2 separate regions of the Homo sapiens genome follow, and region 1 is linked to region 2. Evidence: fine-mapped expression QTL. A gene starts in region 2. The other region holds a variant in brackets. All regions are shown on one strand. Distances are from middle to middle. Region 1 overlaps AKAP10 (A-kinase anchoring protein 10). Region 2 holds the start of AKAP10 (A-kinase anchoring protein 10).

The links.
Region 1: its variant is fine-mapped to the expression of AKAP10 in whole blood (TOPMed, PIP above 0.99).

The regions. Positions count from the first base shown.
Region 1 is chr17:19,941,071-19,949,410 of GRCh38, forward strand. AKAP10 (A-kinase anchoring protein 10) reads right to left here. Exons shown (of 15, transcript NM_007202.4): 5 at 6,337-6,435; 6 at 756-840. Among named protein-coding and RNA genes, the nearest start is that of AKAP10, 33 kb to the right of the region's middle. The variant G/C (reference allele first, on the strand shown) is at 4,211.
Region 2 is chr17:19,973,481-19,981,820 of GRCh38, forward strand. AKAP10 (A-kinase anchoring protein 10) reads right to left here and starts at 4,348. Exons shown (of 15, transcript NM_007202.4): 1 at 4,112-4,348. The coding sequence starts at 4,199. RefSeq lists a silencer at 4,056-4,245 and an enhancer at 4,718-5,431.

The sequences.
Region 1 (8,340 bases), 32 kb before region 2:
AAATATACTCTTTCCATACTGTCCCTATTGTATCTTAAAGGCCTAGGTCAACACTACCTTACTCCCCATGGTGTCATTCCTGATTCCTTTACCTGTATGTAATCTCTCCCACCTTTTTATGACTTTGTAGTTCTCCCCTGACATTTAACACATGCCACTTCATATTACAGTAACCAAACAACATGCCCTATGTCTTTTATTAGGCTGTAACTTCCTTCAAGACTGGCACTATGCCTAACCACGTCTTACACAGAGCACTCTTCTGATAAATGTTAAGTGAAAGAATGAATAGATTTTTTTTAAGGGCACATAGCAGTAATAAATCTAAAAAACCTCTGGAGCCATTTCAACAAATCTATGTGGATTTAGTTATATAGCATCCATTTAGCTTAAAGCCTAACTAACAAATTAGGAGAGCCATCTGAAGACATGCATTATTTAAATAAATAAACCAATTCTAATAGTCATAATCACTACAGACTCAATCACTCCCCAAATTATTTCAGAACTAAAAACAAATTATTTTAACTTAGGAAATATTAACATTGAAAATGAAAATGAAAATTTTAAGAGTTCACATAATTTATATTTAAAAGAAACTGTTAACCAAGATAGAGTATGCTTTATATGATCTTGTAAATATCCAAAATATTTAAATTCTCAAAAATACTTTGTTTTTAGCTGAGTGAAGCCCATTCCTAACAATGAACCCAAATTCCCTAGGATGCACAATGTGAAAATATGAACTAACTTACTCTTGCTCCATTGCACTAAAGACTATGGACTGTGCCAAAACGAAACAGTTGGGATCCACCTGTCCATCTTCTCCACAAATCCTTGCTGCAAAAGAAGTTGTAAATAATTAAATTGCCACTAAATTCAAACTATGTATACACACTTGTGAATCAACTTGGGAGTTAACAGCACAGGCATATAAATTAAGAGGTTTTAAATAGAACTAAAAGAAAATACAGGTAACACTTGATCTTAAAATAGAAAGTCTTTTGAAGTACATATGCAAAAGCAGAAATCAAAAGATTTAACAACATAAAATTTAATTCCTATACATAGAAACCCTCCAAAAACAAAATACAAAGGCAAACAAACAGAAAAAAGATTTGCAGCATGCATGACAGTTAAAAGGTTACTATCATTAAAATACCAAGAGCTCTTATAAACTACTAAGAAATGTTCCAAAAGAAAAATGAGCAAAGGACATGACAATCCACAAAGGAACAAACATAAAATGACCAACGTGAAAAGACATACATACTCACTAGTAATCAAATAGATTAGAATAAGGAGGCACTACACCTTTTATCTAGTAAACTGGCCCAACATTGTTTTTAATAATATGTATACTTGAGCAAGGGCACAAGAAAACTAACACTAGTGTTAGTGGGGATACAAACACCTTTTTCTGAAGGCAATTTGGCAGTTTCTAGCATAACTTTAAAAATGAACATACCCTTTCAATGAGCAATTCTATTTCTGGGATTGTAACTTAAAAAATTATGGATTTGTGAAGTTATCTGTAAAAAAGTTTATTAAAATGTTATTGGTAGAAATTTTAAAACATGAAATGTGCTAAAATAAGGAACTGCTAAAATAAACTGCAGCGAAACAATTAGCTATTTAGCTAGCTGTTAAACATGGCTGGAAAAACCATATAACATGATGCCTAGTCTCACTTTGTGTTCATGACTTTAGTGGGACCTTCATGAAACCAAGGGATCATACTAGTGTCCTGGTCTGTTTACATTCACTTTCCTAGACAATACAAATCTGTGATACTGTGAAATATGTTATTTAGTCTTTGCCCAGTTTTTTTTTTTTCCTTTTTCTTCTGAGACAAGGTCTCACTTTGTCACCCAAGCCGGAGTCAGTGGCACGATCATGGCTCACTGCTGCCTTCAACTCCAGGGCTCAGTGATCCTCAGCCTTCTGAGTAGCTGAGACTACAGACAAGAGCTATTACGCCTGGCCAATTTTTAAATTTTTTGTAAGGGGGTCTCACTATGTTGACCAGGCTGGTTTTGATCTCATGGCCTGAAACGATCCTCCTGCCTCAGCCTCCCAAAGTGCTGGGATTACAGGCCTGAGACATTGCAACTGGCCTTTAGCCAGTTTCTTAGCATACAGCGCCTAAAATTCATGGAATCTCTGGATTCTTTTGAAGGCTAATGAGATGACTTGTGGCTGTGGCCTCTAAAGAGCTTTAGGATGAGGGCTAATCACCAGAAAGACCAAGGCAGAATTACACGTTTGGGACTTTCAGCCCTACCCACCAACCTCCCGGGATGAGGGGGCTGAAGGTTGAGCTGATCACCAATAGCCAATGATCAATCATGCCTATATAATGAAGTCTCCACAAAAAACCCAAAAGGACAGAATGGGGAGGGGGGCTTCTGAATAGCTAAATCTGTAGAGGTTCTTGGAGGGTGGCATGACCTGGAGAGTGCATGGAAGCTCTGTGCCCCTCTCCCATACCTTGCCCATGCATCTCTTCCATCTGCCTGTTCAATCTGTATCCTTTGTAATATCCTTTATAATAAATGGGTAAATATATGTAAAGCATTTCCCTGAGTTCTGAGAGCTGCTCTAGCAAATTTATTGAACCCAAGGAGGGGACTGTGGGAACTCCAATTTATAGAAGGTCAGTCAGAAGCACAGGCCACAACTTGTACTTGAGACTGGCATCTGAAGTGGAGGCAGTCTTGTGGGACAGAGTCCTCAATCTGTGGGATCTGATGCTATCTCCAGGTAAACAGTGTGAGAACTGAACTGACTTAGAGGACACCCAGTTGGTGTTCACTGAACAATCATCTGCAGAATTGGTAGCTGACAGGGAAAAAACCCCACACAACTAGAGTCATGGAAGGGTTCTGTTTTGTGAGAGTTCAGAAGGAGAAACTGAGTTTTTTTTTTTTCTACAGTACATCTCCTTTCTCAAATATTTAACACCTCTTCTATTCTCTTTGCTGAGGACTTTGCTTCCTGCTTCCTTGAGAATATAGAAGCAATCAGAAAATTATTTCCATCATCTCTCACATCTTTCAACTCACCTGCATCTCTACCCGTGTACTGCATTCTTTCCTGTGACTCTAGATAAATTGTCCTTGCTCCCATCTAAGCAATCTTCTATGTGAGCACTGGAATTCATCCCTTCTGCCTCCAGACTTCTTTCCTGTAACAACTGTCCCCTCTCCTACATCAACTTCTCCTTCACTACTGCCTCATTCCTATCAGCTGTGTGGACTGCATGTTTATATATATACCTGTTTGTATGCTATAACACACTTTATATGCTTATATATATGCCTGTAACCTCAGCACTTTGGGAGGCCAAGGTGAGTAGATCATGAGGTCAGGAGATGGAGACCATCCTGGCCAACACGGTGAAACCCCGTTTCTACTAAAATACAAAAAAAAAAATTAGCCAGGCGTGGTGGCGAGCGCCTGTAGTCCCAGCTACTTGGGAGGCTGAGGCAGGGGAATCGCTTGAACCCAGGAGGCGGAGGTTGCCGTGAGCCAAGATCACGCCACTGCACTCCAGCCTGGCGAGAGTGAGACTCCGTCTCAAAAACAAACAAACAAACAAACAAAAAATGCAGTCATGCTTTATTCCTTTTTTTCCCTCTCATACCACTCACTTCCAAACCATCAGCAAATTCTGTCAGCTGTACCTTCAAAGTTTTTAAAAATTCTACCACTTCAAACATTTGTGGAAGATGAAGGAGGTAGTGCAAGTATAGATTCTGGATCACTCTAAATCCTCACATAAAAACAGTAATTAGTTAGCAACACCAAAAATCCAAGGATTACATTTAAAACAAGACTATGCAAAGTGGGTACACAGTAAGAGCTAAAGTGAAGGCTCCTTTGAACAAAACTCACTTGAAGGACAGCTATATTAAAATAGTCCAACTGCAAGAGGAGACAAATAATTTGGACAGGATTAAGAATGGGGCTCAAGGAGGAAAAATGACTTGCCTAAAGCCACACAGGTAATTAACATCCTAAAATATATAATGATAGACACTGGGATAGAGGTTTTCTCAAATTCTTTGATCACAAAATGTTATCAACTTGATCCTTCAGAAGACTTTTCCTTCATGGGATTACATCATCATTAATTTGATTAAGCTTAAGTAAAAGAAAGAGAGTTGCAGTGTGGTTTCATTTTAAGTGTTTTATTTGACTTGAAACT[G/C]CTTCCTTTTTATCCACACGCCAGTCAGGCTATTAACTGGTACAGACTCCCCTCAAAAAAAAATCACTAGCCAACCAATTCTTCAAACAGGCAAACTCTAATCAGTCAGAACATCCCTGTTGTATTACTAGGAAAAGCTGGTCTAGGGATGATGATAGTAGCAAATTCCCACATAAAAATAGAGCAACAACACAGAAAACCTCAAATCTCATGACAACATCTGTCAGCAAAACTCAGTGAAACAGTACCCCTTAAATACAAGCAGATAGGGATAAGCCACCAACAGCCACCAGGCCTATGTTATAGCCGTTATAGGTATCTGTGTGGGAGAAAGAAAAGGAAAATGGAGCCAACATGACATGGACCCCAGAATAGCTAACTGGAAGGTACAGTGGGCCAATTTAAGAAACACAGCTGAGACTAACAGGGGTCTTGCTGTCCCCAGCAGTGAGTGAGTGCAAAGCACCCACACTAAGGATTAAAGAAGCCCAACATCGGGACAGATCTGCTAAAAGTGCAAGAACATGTCTTATTTCATAAATCACAAATACTAACTTTTTTGAAGAATAAAAATACATAATATTAGGACTTATGAGAATGTAATATTTATTGAATGAATAAATAACCTCTTTTATCTGTGAATATACGTTCACCTAAGGTCTTCCTGATAAAACACAGTAAAAGCTTTCAAACTATTTTGCTATAACCTATAAGAAATATATTTGTTGAATCAGCATACACATACATACATGTATATATAATGAAAACATTTTTCTGAAATGTTTGTCCTTACTACTCTGAGATACTTTGATTTTTTTATTCTAGTATATATATATATACACACACTAATATGTATATTATATATTAGTATATATACTAATATATAATATATACTATATATGCATATATACTAATACATATATTTTATATATATATATATTTTATATATATATATATTATATATATATATATATATATATATATATATATATATATTTTTTTTTTTTTTTTTTTTTTTTGGCAGGGGGTGAGGGCATAAGAGAAGGCTGGTCCCAACCTACAGTATGAAAAACACTGCCACAGCACAGCAGTTAAGGTATGTGAGGGTCTAGTTTCAAATCCTGACTCTGCCATATCTGAGCTGTTACCCTGGACAAAGCACTTAACTTCTCTGTGCTTCAGTTTCTTCATCTATAAAATAACTGTATTTATCCCACAAAGTTCTTTAGAAGTTAAAATGAGTCTATCCATAAAAAGTGCTTGGAATATTGTCTGGGACACAGTGAGTGTTTAATAAATGTGTACTATTTATTGATCTTGCTGTCATTGTTATTCAGGTTAAAGCCTAAGAATTTGGGTCCAACATATAAGAAAAACTTTTTTTTTTTTTTTTTTTTTAAGGTTAGCAAATTGTCTTTATTCAGAAGAATAAAGTTACGTGAAACTGGGACTGGACATGAGGCTGCCCTCCTCCTTGCACCTCCAGCTGTGCCAAATGACACAGAAATGACACTGTGTGTGGCACAATCAACTGGCAAAAAAAGGCAAGTCACAGGCCATGTGATGGCTCTGGCTAATGCAGGTAGACATCCAGGGTGCCCAGGGACGTCAGGCCCACTGAGAAGTGGGATGAAGCCCTGAGACGGAGAGGCCACCACTGAGACACCTGTCTGGCCATCCAGTTGCCCACTGGTCGTGAGACTCTTGGGCTGCAGCCCTGATGCCTAGAGACTTTGGTACCGGCTTTTAGCCTCACTGGACTTCCAACCCCAGAAGTTTCTGTCCCGCCCACTTCGTGCACTGGTGCGGGGCTGCCGGCCAGTCCATCCGGTGGTCTGTGCCGGTTAGCGTAGCCGCCCGCCGGCCCGGCTGCTCAGCAGCGGGCAGGCCTGAGCACCCGCTACACTGCAGCCCATCTGGCCCAGGCAAAGACCCTCGCACCGAATGCAGCCGAGAAACTTTTAAAGTGAGCTATAATCCGATATAAAAAATACTCAGAAAACAAATTAGGAAGGGAACTGCTAAATTCCATGTTAAGAAAAAATTATCTTAGTCAATAACGAAAATTGTCAGTTCTGTGCATTTTTTGTCATTTTTTTTTTGCCATAGTTTCAAGCACTGCTTACCTATGATGTCATTTCTCATTGCTTCTGTAATTGGTATTGGTTTAGCAGCATCTGGAGATATATATTTGGTAAAAGTATTCACTGCATCTTGTTCTATACCTGCAAGGGAAGAAGAGAACTTCAAAAACCAAAAAGCAACTTGGACTCCAGTAATGAATTATATTCATGAATAGCAGGGCTTAGATCACTGTGAGTTCCTATTGCAAAATAAACTTCCATCACAAAGGTGCTTTTTCATTGTTTGGTTTGTGGAAGAGGAGAGTTACATGGGGGTGTTCAAAGCTATGGAAAATGCATATGATGAAAAAACTATGCATGAATTTCAAAGTACTTTTACACCAAAATAAACTCATATTAACCTGTTATAACGTATCTGAACAGGATCTACTCTGAGGCACTAAGAAGGAGAAAACATCAGTTTGAAGACAGCCCCTATTGGAGCAACATGAATTCTGCTAAAATGGAAGAATAAACATCAAATTTATGGTGAAGCTTGTGTGGATGAAAGATAAAATTATTGATGCTTTACCAAAAGTTTATGGGGACAATGCCTCAAAGGACAGAGTGAGACTCCGTCTCAAAAAAAAAAAAAAAGTCAAGTATTAATAATTATGACAGAAACCACCAAAGGCGGGTGTTAAAGTGTTATTTTCCTAATGTGCTTGCTAAAGGGAAAACAGCAAATTAATATAGAGAATATCATCCGTTGATTTGATATGAAATCCTAATAAGTATGTCAAGATGAAATAAGCACACTCTTCTGTCTCTCCCATGGAATGCAACTCAAAACAATGGACAAATGCATCCAAGGACTTGGAAGCAGGTGGACTGAGAAAAGTAATCAGAACTTGCAGTACCTCCGTACTCCTGACAAGTTTGTCCAGCACCTCCTGGCCTGGACTCAAAAGCTGAAACTGCACACCAGATGCACAAAGAAGAAGTTCCAAGACAGGCCCTCTATTTCTGGTCTGAGGAACAGGAAAGGGGGCTCTCACGGATCAAAGAGAGTGGAGGAAATCCCCTGGGTTGTTTTGTTTTGTTCCTTTCTCTCCTTCGACTCCCAGGCAGCATCAGAGCAGCCACAGCAGCAATGACAGCAGCTCCAAGAATCCTACTTTCTGACAAGAGAAACTGCAGTCCCAAGAAGAAGAAGTCGTGGCCACAGAGGTTGACATAGCTACAGGAAGTGTGCTGAAGTATAGGGAATCTAAAGCCCTGACTTTCTAGCCAGACAACAGGAAAGGGATAAAGGGAGGTTCTTAGAAGGCAGAACGTGTCAGGGACATCACAGAAAAGAAGGAGCCCATGAAAACGTCGAGTTGTATGTGCACTCCCGGGGCCACTCGTGAGCTGGGTGTGCATGGCCCTGCTTCTAAAAGTGTACAAAGGCTTTGGGACCTGACCATTGGCCAGGTCCCAGACTGGACACAGAAAGGCACATAAGCAGATAAGATACAAAACTGAACTGATGATGGAACCAGAGCCGACAGAATGCTGCTTAGAATTTGTGGACTGAACCTAACTAGGTCAACTGCTTGTTAAAGCAAAAACTTCAATATTTTCCACAGGATTTAAACAAGATTCAGAATCATGTAACGTAAGTCAAACTGTCCAAGATACAATCCAAAATTAATTGTCATATAAAGAACCAGAAAATCCCATTATCTCACAAGAGAAAAGACAATCAAGAGGACACATATGCTGGGATGATAAAACAAATTTTAAGTAGCTACTAAAACCATGCTCTAAGAAATAAGATCACTCCTGAAACAAATAAGAGTTTCAGGAGCAAAGTATAAGACATACACAAAAAAAGAAAATTTTAGAACTAAAAAACATAATAAACAAAATTTAAAATTCACTACAAAGACTCAATAACAGAATGGAAATAACGGGAAAGAACCAGTGAATTTGAAGACAGATGAATAGAAATTTTCGAAGCTGAACAACAGGAAAAAAAAATTTAAAGAAGTAAGGAAAGCCTCAGGAACCTGCCAAACAATA
Region 2 (8,340 bases):
AACTAGCATCATTTACAGATCAGTCTATCTTTTCCCAACTAGGAACTCTATATCCGAAATTCCCAATATACCTGGGTCTGTTTCTGTGCATTTGTTTTGAATATATACCATAAGTATCAAGAATGGAATGGAAACCAAATGGAAGCCTATGGCAAAATAATGCTGCCTCCTCAATCTTTATAAAACCAGCTCCCTCTTGACATTTAAGCTAAGATTTGAATGTCATCTCCTTAGAGGACATCCTTAACCACTCAATCTTAACAGAGATGACTGCCTAGACCAGGGTGTTAATTGTCACAGATGGTGAGACGTGGTAGGATTTCGATATGTGTGAGGTAGACCTAACAGATTTGCTGATGGATCAGATATAGAGTAGGAGGAAAGAAGAGGTTCAAAGATGTACTAAAGTTTTGGGCTGAGCAACTAAAAATCCAAAAATGCAGCCGGGAGCGGTGGCTCATGCCTGTAATCCCAGCCTTTGGGAGGCCGAGGCAGGCAGATCACCTGAGGTCAGGAGTACAAAACCAGCCTGACCAACATGGTGAAACCCTGTCTCCAAAAATTAGCTGGTCATGGTGGCGCATGCCTGTAATTCCAGCTACTTGCGAGGCTGAGGCAGGAGAATCACTTGAACCCAGGAGGCGGAGGTTGCAGTGAGCCAAGATCCGCCACTGCACTCCAGCTTGAACGATAAGAGCGAAACTCCATCTCAAAAAAAAGAAAAGAAAAAAAGCCAAAATACTACTTCTTGAGAAAAACTGATGAGCAGGTTTAAAATGACTAAATCTGGCATAAAATTTTAGATATTGTAAGTTGAAGGTATCTACTGGATTAAGCTTGTCCATCCCGCGGCCCAGGATGGCTCTGAATGTGCCCAACACAAATTCGTAAACTTTCTTAAAACATTATAAGTTTTGCGATTTTTTTTTAGCTCATCTGCTATTGTTAGCGTTAGTGTACTCTATGTGTGGCTCAAGACAATTCTTCTTCCAATGTGGCCTAGGGAAGCCAAAAGACTGGACACCTCTATATTGGTCAGGTAGAGATACAAACTGAACCTAAAGTTGGATATACCAGTCTGGATTCAGGGGCAAGGATCCAACGTAGTGATGTAAATTTGGGACTCAATGCATTGATGGTATTTAAAGTCTGAATCGAATCCCTAACAGGACCATCTCCAGCTTCTACTCTTACCACATCCAGCCTCCAAAAAGCACCTAGAATGATTTTTTTTTTTTTTTGAGACAAGATCTCACTGTGTTGCAGTGGTGGGATCATAGCTTACTGCAGCCTCAAACTCCTGGGCTCAAGTGATCTTTCTGCTTCAGCCTCCTGAATAACTCACAACACCCAGCTATTTATTTTTTCTTTTTGTAGAGATGGAGTCTCTCTATGCTGTACAGGTTGATCTCGAACTGGCCTCAGGTGATCCTCCTGTCTCAGCCTCCCAAAGCCCTTGATTACAGGCATGAGCCACCATGCCCTAGAATGATCTTTTTAAGATATAAGTTCAGATCACTCCTCTTTCAAAATTTTAAATTAATATTCTTTCTGTATTTTGTTTGACACATGGTCTCACTTTGTCATCCAGGCTGGAGTGTAGTGACTCAAATATGGCTCATTGTAGCCTCCACCTCCTAGGCTCAAGTGATCCTTCTGCCTCAGCCTCCTGAGTAGCTGGGACCACAGGTGTGCACCATCATACCCAGCAATTTTTTAAATGTTTTGTACAGGTCTCATGTTGCTCAGGCTGGTCTTGAACTCCTGGGTTCAAGCTATATTCCTGCCTCGGCCTCCTAAAATACTGGGATTACAGATATGAACCACCATGTTTGGCATCTCGGCATTAGGAATAAAACCTAACCATGGCCCGTAGAGCTCTCAATCACCCAACACTTGCCTACATCTATGCTCCAGTCACAGTAGCCTTCTTTCCTCTCTTGAAGGGCACCATGCTCTTTCTTGCCTCCTGGCCTTTGAACATGCGATTCCCTGGCCTCTCTAGTTACCTCCTACTGATCCTTCAGCTCTAAGTTTCAAGGTCACCTGCTGAGTCCTCTAACATCTAACCAAAATGCATTTCTCCTCTTAATCTTTCATAACACTTTACTCAACTTGTAAGTATACACCTATACACACACACTTACATGGAGCGAAAGGGAGAAGAGAGAAGATTTGTTTGCTTATTTATTATCTGTCTACCCCAGTAGACAATAAGCTCCATGGGTGCAGGGACATTCTCTGGTTCACTACTCAATCGTGAGGGCCTAGCACAGCACCTGGCAGACTCTGGACACTCAAAAGGTATTTGTTGAATAGAGACAACAGTCTCTTGTGCAATATGCAGTTTGCCTCATTATTCTTAGAATGTTTTCCCCCCTTAAAAAAACAAAAGTTAACCACTTCAATACCAATAAATTAGAGAGCTATTAGGTATACCCCTGCCTTACCAATAAAGCTTCCTCCTACTATTTTACCGGTTTCATTCATTAAGCACTTTCATGCATTCATCACCTGGCATCAGTTACCAAAACCGTGTACCCACTTAAGAAGAAGTATTTAAAGTCATTCAGAGTTCAATGGGCCTTTGGGAATCATCTAATTCTCAGCTGACAGAAGACAGAAAAGTAGGTTAACTGGTCTGCCCCTGTTACAGTTAGCAGCAGAGCTGTCATATGAAACCAAGTTCGATTTTGTTTAGTGCTTTTTCCAAAACCCATTTCTGGCTGGCCGCGGTGGCTCATGCCTGTAATCCTGGCACTTTGGGAGGCCGAGGTGGGAGGCCCACTTGAGGTCAGGGGTTCAAGACCAGCCTAACATGGTGAAGCCCCGTTTCTACTAAAAATACAAAAATTAGCCGGGCATGGTGGGGCATGGGTAATCCCAGCTACTTGGGAGGCTGAGGCAGGAGAATCGATTAAACCTGGGAGACAGAGGTTGCAGTGAGCCGAGACTGAGATCGCGCCATTGCACTCGAGCCTGGGCAACAAGAGCGAAACTCCGTCTCAAAACAAAAAAAGAAAACAAAACCCATTTCTGTCTGGTACTTTTTTTTTGAGACGGAGTTTCGCTCTTTTTGCCCAGGCTGGAGTGCAATGGTGCTATCTCGGCTCACCGCAACCTCCGCCTCCCAGGTTCAAGCGATTCTCCTGCTTCAGCCTCCCAAGTAGCTGGCATTACAGGCATGCGCCACCACCCTGGCTAATTTTGTATTTTTAGTAGACACGGGGTTTCTCCATGTTGGTCAGGCTGGTCTTGAACTCCCGATCTCAGGTGATCCACCCGCCAAGCCTCCCAAAGTGCTGGGATTACAGGCGTGAGCCACCGCGCCCGGCCTCTGTCTGGTACATTTTATCTGAAGCAACAGGAATTGACAGGAAAAATCACTGCTGTCCACAGACCCATACTTGCTCACTTCGGATATGTATTTTTAATGAAGTGCAACAACGTTACCCAGAATCAAAATTAAGCTGTTTCTACGTAAACATTGGGCAGGTAATACAACTGGAAATCAAAAATGTAAGTAGTTCGTTTGTAAGTTAGGGTTCCAGTAGTTAGCAAACTTGCCAAAGTCATCAAAAGTAGTGGTCTTCCTGTTGGGGAACTTTAGCAATAAGTAATTTTATTTTAGTAACAGCAGTAACTACCCCTCCCCCCAAAGAGGAAATTGGAAGACAGCACTGGGTGAAGAAAACAATTTTTTCACGTGTTGCTTTTAGACATAAAACCCTCAACATTTGGAAACTTCAGACTTCCATAATAAGGTTCTAAAGAGATTTCCTTGATCTTGATCCACGGTCCTCAAAGAAACACAAAAAAACTAACCCCCACCTAAGAACTGTTCTTAACCAAACAGGCAGGAACTTCTATGGGCTTTAGCAATCGCTTCTGAACCAGCGCGACAATACTCCTCTGACCTCGCGCAAGAAGGCCACCTTCTCCCTCCCAGAAGAGTCCCGGAGCAGAGCAAGGCACTCAGGGGGCATCTGCGCCGAGGTCGAGGCTCGCTGAAGGCCTTGCTGCCGCCTTGGGGAAAGCCCTCGCAGGCCCACCTGCCCCACCGCCGCCCCTGAGGCCCGGCCTGACTCCCCGCCGGCGCCCCCTCAGCTACCTTTCCGCCGGAAGAAGGACATGGCGGGGCCCGGGTCGGGACGGAGGGTGCGGGGGGACTGGCGCGGGGAGGGCCCGGCTCCCCTCATTCAGCAACCGGCCCGGACTTCCGGGTCCAGAGGGGCCGCTGCACTAGCGCGAAAAGGGACCCTTCTTCCGGGAGTGGGCCCCACCGCCTCCTCGGGATGCCCAGGCAGCTCCAGCCGCCATATTATCAACAAGCCGCCCGCCCGGAGTTCCGGTCCTTCCCCGCGCTAGGCTTCACGGGAGGTCAAGCGCCGGCCCCGCCCCTTTTCCCCATCCCCCTCCCGCGGGTGCAGGGGCGCACGCCCGCATCGCCCACGTGACCCGCGCGTGCTACCCGCGCCTCTTTCCCGGGCCCTGGGTGCCTGGAGCGAGCCACCGTTCCTGCAGCTGTTTTGTGGCGTCTGTCGCCGGCCCCCGGTGGAGCGCTGCAGACCCAGTCTCTGCAAAACTAACTCCCTGGGGCGGGAGCCCTCCCAGCAGCTGGAACGGGGCGGGCCTTAGGTCCCCGGCTTCCGGCCCCTGGGTACCCTTCAAATTGTGCCCTTCTAAAAGGCAGGGTCAACCCTGCCACGCTCCAGCTCGACCCCTCCTGCTCCTCCGTTTGAGTTTTGCTCACAGGCGCTGGCCGGCACGAGCAGCTTCACCCTGCACCCCAGTCCCTGCTTCCTCAGGAGAACCCGCCACGGCCTGCGGGTTCGAGGCGATGCAGAACCCTGATTAGGAAAAGGCACAACCTGCCGCATGCGGAACCAGCAGCTCCCTGGATCATTAGCGAATGAAAAGGGGAAGCGGGCTTATTTCGGAGTGCAGTCCCTGCGAATGCTCAACTTTGTAAGGGACTGCAACATAAAAGCCTCGCCAGTATTTAAAAGCTAGCTCCAGTGAATCATCCTTGCTCAAATGCCATTTTCCTGTGAATCTTCTGACCCTCTACTCCCAAAGCAAAATCAATCAAGCCTCCCTGTCTTTGGTGCTTCTTAACACCCGGCGAGTGCGCTCAGCGGCTGAGGTTGTAACTGCTCCCTGGGGTTGGGGTTGGGGAGGGCAGGAAGGTAATAGTAACTCAATAAATGTTCGCTGGGGTTTTTAAACCAATGAAGTTTATCATGTGACGGATGGGGAAACAGGCCCAGAAGAGACAACTAGCCCAAGATTGTTCAGAATGTTAGAAATACCAAAATTGTTAGAAATAGATAATCGGTGCCACGAAGAAAAGTCAGCACGGAGACAAAAGATCTCCAGCAAGGCAATCTTTACTTTCTGCAGAAAGGGTGCTCAATCGCAGATGGAACGATGTCGAGAGCACACCTGAACAAAGGAAAAGCAAACATATTTATCCCTTACGCATTTGGGTCGTCCTCACTGCTATGTCCTGCATCCATTGGCTGGAGCGGGACCTCACACTCTTAAACTGATAGCCGATTTGCTAATAGCCTAAAACTTTCTAAATAGGTAAGTGCAAGGAAGAACGAAGAAGGAGAGGAAGTTGCTTACCGAAAGGTTTAAGGAAGCAATAACATTTCCAAATAAGGAAGGGGCATAGGCTGTGAACTGGAACGTGCCTGTGAGCATGTCCAACAGTTACATAGGATAGGGCTTAACAAAGAGTTATTAGCACAAAGCAAGGAGGCTTGAAGAAAGTTAGTCTTTAAAATAAACTATTACTTCTAACACTTATGATGTATTCTTTAACAAGAAGGGGAACTTTGAAGAGGAAACTTTTTACTTTCTACAAGAATGTCCAAGTTTAAGACTATAACTAGAACCCGAAATAGGCAAATCCCTTAACCTGCTCTAATAATAATATGGTCTTTTCACTATATTGTTAGAGCAGGTTAAAAGATTTACTTATTTCATTTCTGGCCAGATGCAGTGGCTTATGCCTGTAATCCCAACACTTTGAGAGGCTGAGGCAGTCAGATCACCTGAGGTCAGGAGTTAGACCAGCCTGGCCAAGATGGCGAAACCCCGTCTCTACTAAAAATACAAAAATTAACTGGGCGTCGTGGCATGCCTGTAGTCCCAGCTAATCAGGAGGCTGAGGCAGGAGAATCTCGAACACGGGAGGTGGAGGTTGCAGTGAGCCAAGATCGCGCCACTGCACTCCAGCCTGGGCGAGAGGAAGACTCCTTAAAAAAAAAAAAAAAAAAGATGTGCCTATTTCGTTTCAGAGCATGGCATGTTTGCAAGTGCATGAAAGGTAACCAAAACTGACATGGAAATTTACTATGCGACGGTACTGTGCTAAACCCTCCAGATGAGTAATAGTCCTTGGAGTCAGTCCTGGTATCTGGAAAACTAGGCACTGAAAAATAAAGTCAACTGCTCAAGGTCACACGCTAACTAGGGATGAAGCCTGGATTTCAAGGTGAAGCCTTTCTCCAGTTAAGGACAGCGCGTCCAGGCGCACTGGACGGAAGCAGCGCTGGCAGAGGCTCCGGACGTCCGGAGTGAGCTGGCGCCGAATGGACGCGGTCTGGCCGCTTCCTCCTGGCCTCGGCCGGGCCTGCACCGGGAGGCTGAGCGGCGCCCCACCAGGGATCCGAGATGCCCTCGGGAGCCAATCTGTGTTCTTGGCGGACCACACCCCGCTGTCTGTAGCCAATAAAACCTTGGATCGTGCATCCCACCCCCACCAAAGGGAGATTGGCTGAAGCCAAGGACCCGGGCGCGGTCTACGTGGGATTTCTCTGCAGGCTGAGGGGACAAGTGGCTGTGTCTACCAGGGGCCCAAGTACAGGGCATCAGCAAGAAAGCGCAGCGCCCTTCTCCTGTTCCCTTCCAGCGTGCAGAACCTCGCAGGGGCTATTTTGTATGTGTTGTGTGGTTAGTTGGATGGGGCGGGAGGGACGTAGGGGAGGGGAGAGTGCGAGAAATCCCCTGAATGTCTCTGGCACGGGAGCAGATCCCACAGAGTTGGAGGCGGAGGACTCTAAGTTCCTCTAAATCTCCTCTAAGCCTTCCTCATTCTCTCCAGCTAAGCAGTCTGTGCAGAAGCAGTGCCTCACCTCGACTTCCAGTGTGATTTGCTGCCTTTGAGCCCTGCCCACCAGAAATTCTGAAGTCGCCGTAATCCCCGACAGCTGCATACACCTCAGTCATGATAATGGCCGTCATTATTTATGAAGTACTTATTATGCGCCCTCCTTGTATTAAGTGCTTTACAATTACTAGCTCACTTAATCCATAATTCCTGCCCTTCCCCGAAAAGAGACCCTGTGAGATGGCTGCCATCGCAACCCCCAATTTACAGATGTGGCCCTGAGGATCGGGGTAACTTATGTAGGATCATGAGGCTGTTAAGAGGTAGAGACAGGATTTCAATCGCTGTCAATCAGACTCCAAAGCCATTTGCTTATACCACTTTCTCCTATCTTTCTCTCCACCCACACATTTATCCAGGGTCCCAAAATGGGATGTCTGTCGGGCAGGTATATGGGGGTGAATGATATCTGGCAGTACATATTCTTCGGGTACCTTCTGAATCATCACCCATTAAAATGTTTATATGCTTAGGGAAGCTTGCTGCTAAGAGTATTGTCATTTAATCTTTTGAAATTTGATGATCCACATATGAGTAAAGTTAAAAGAAGAATTTAAAAATAACAAGAATATTACATTAGGCTGAATACGCAGCTGTGGCAAACTAATACCCTGCATTGTATTTCTGAATTAACTTCATAAAGTCATTTTAGTTTACATGTAAGATAAAATTAATTTTTATCAGGAGTTCCTTTAATTATGCTCCTAATTTTTGGGAACCGTCACAGTGTTGTTTTGTTTTATGTGTTTTTTTTCTTTTTTTTTTTTAGACGGAGTTTCGCTCTTGTTGCCCAGGCTGGAGTGCAATGGCGCGATATCGGCTCACTGCAACCTCCACCTCCCGGGTTCAAGTGATTCTCCTGCCACAGCCTCCCGAAGAGCTGGGATTACAGGCATGCACCACCACGACCGGCTAATTTTGTATTTTTAGTAAAGATGGGGTTTCACCATGTTGGTCAGGCTGGTCTTGAACTCCTGACCTCAGGTGATCCGCCTGCCTCAGCCTCCCAAAGTGCTGGGATTATAGGCGGGAGCCACCATGCCCGGCCTCGTCACAGTCTTTTTATACCAGTTGTATTAATTACAACAAATCAGTGAGGTAAAATCAGTAAGTTAATTATCACAAATCCAGTGAATGGTTTAATCTAACATTGTTTAAAA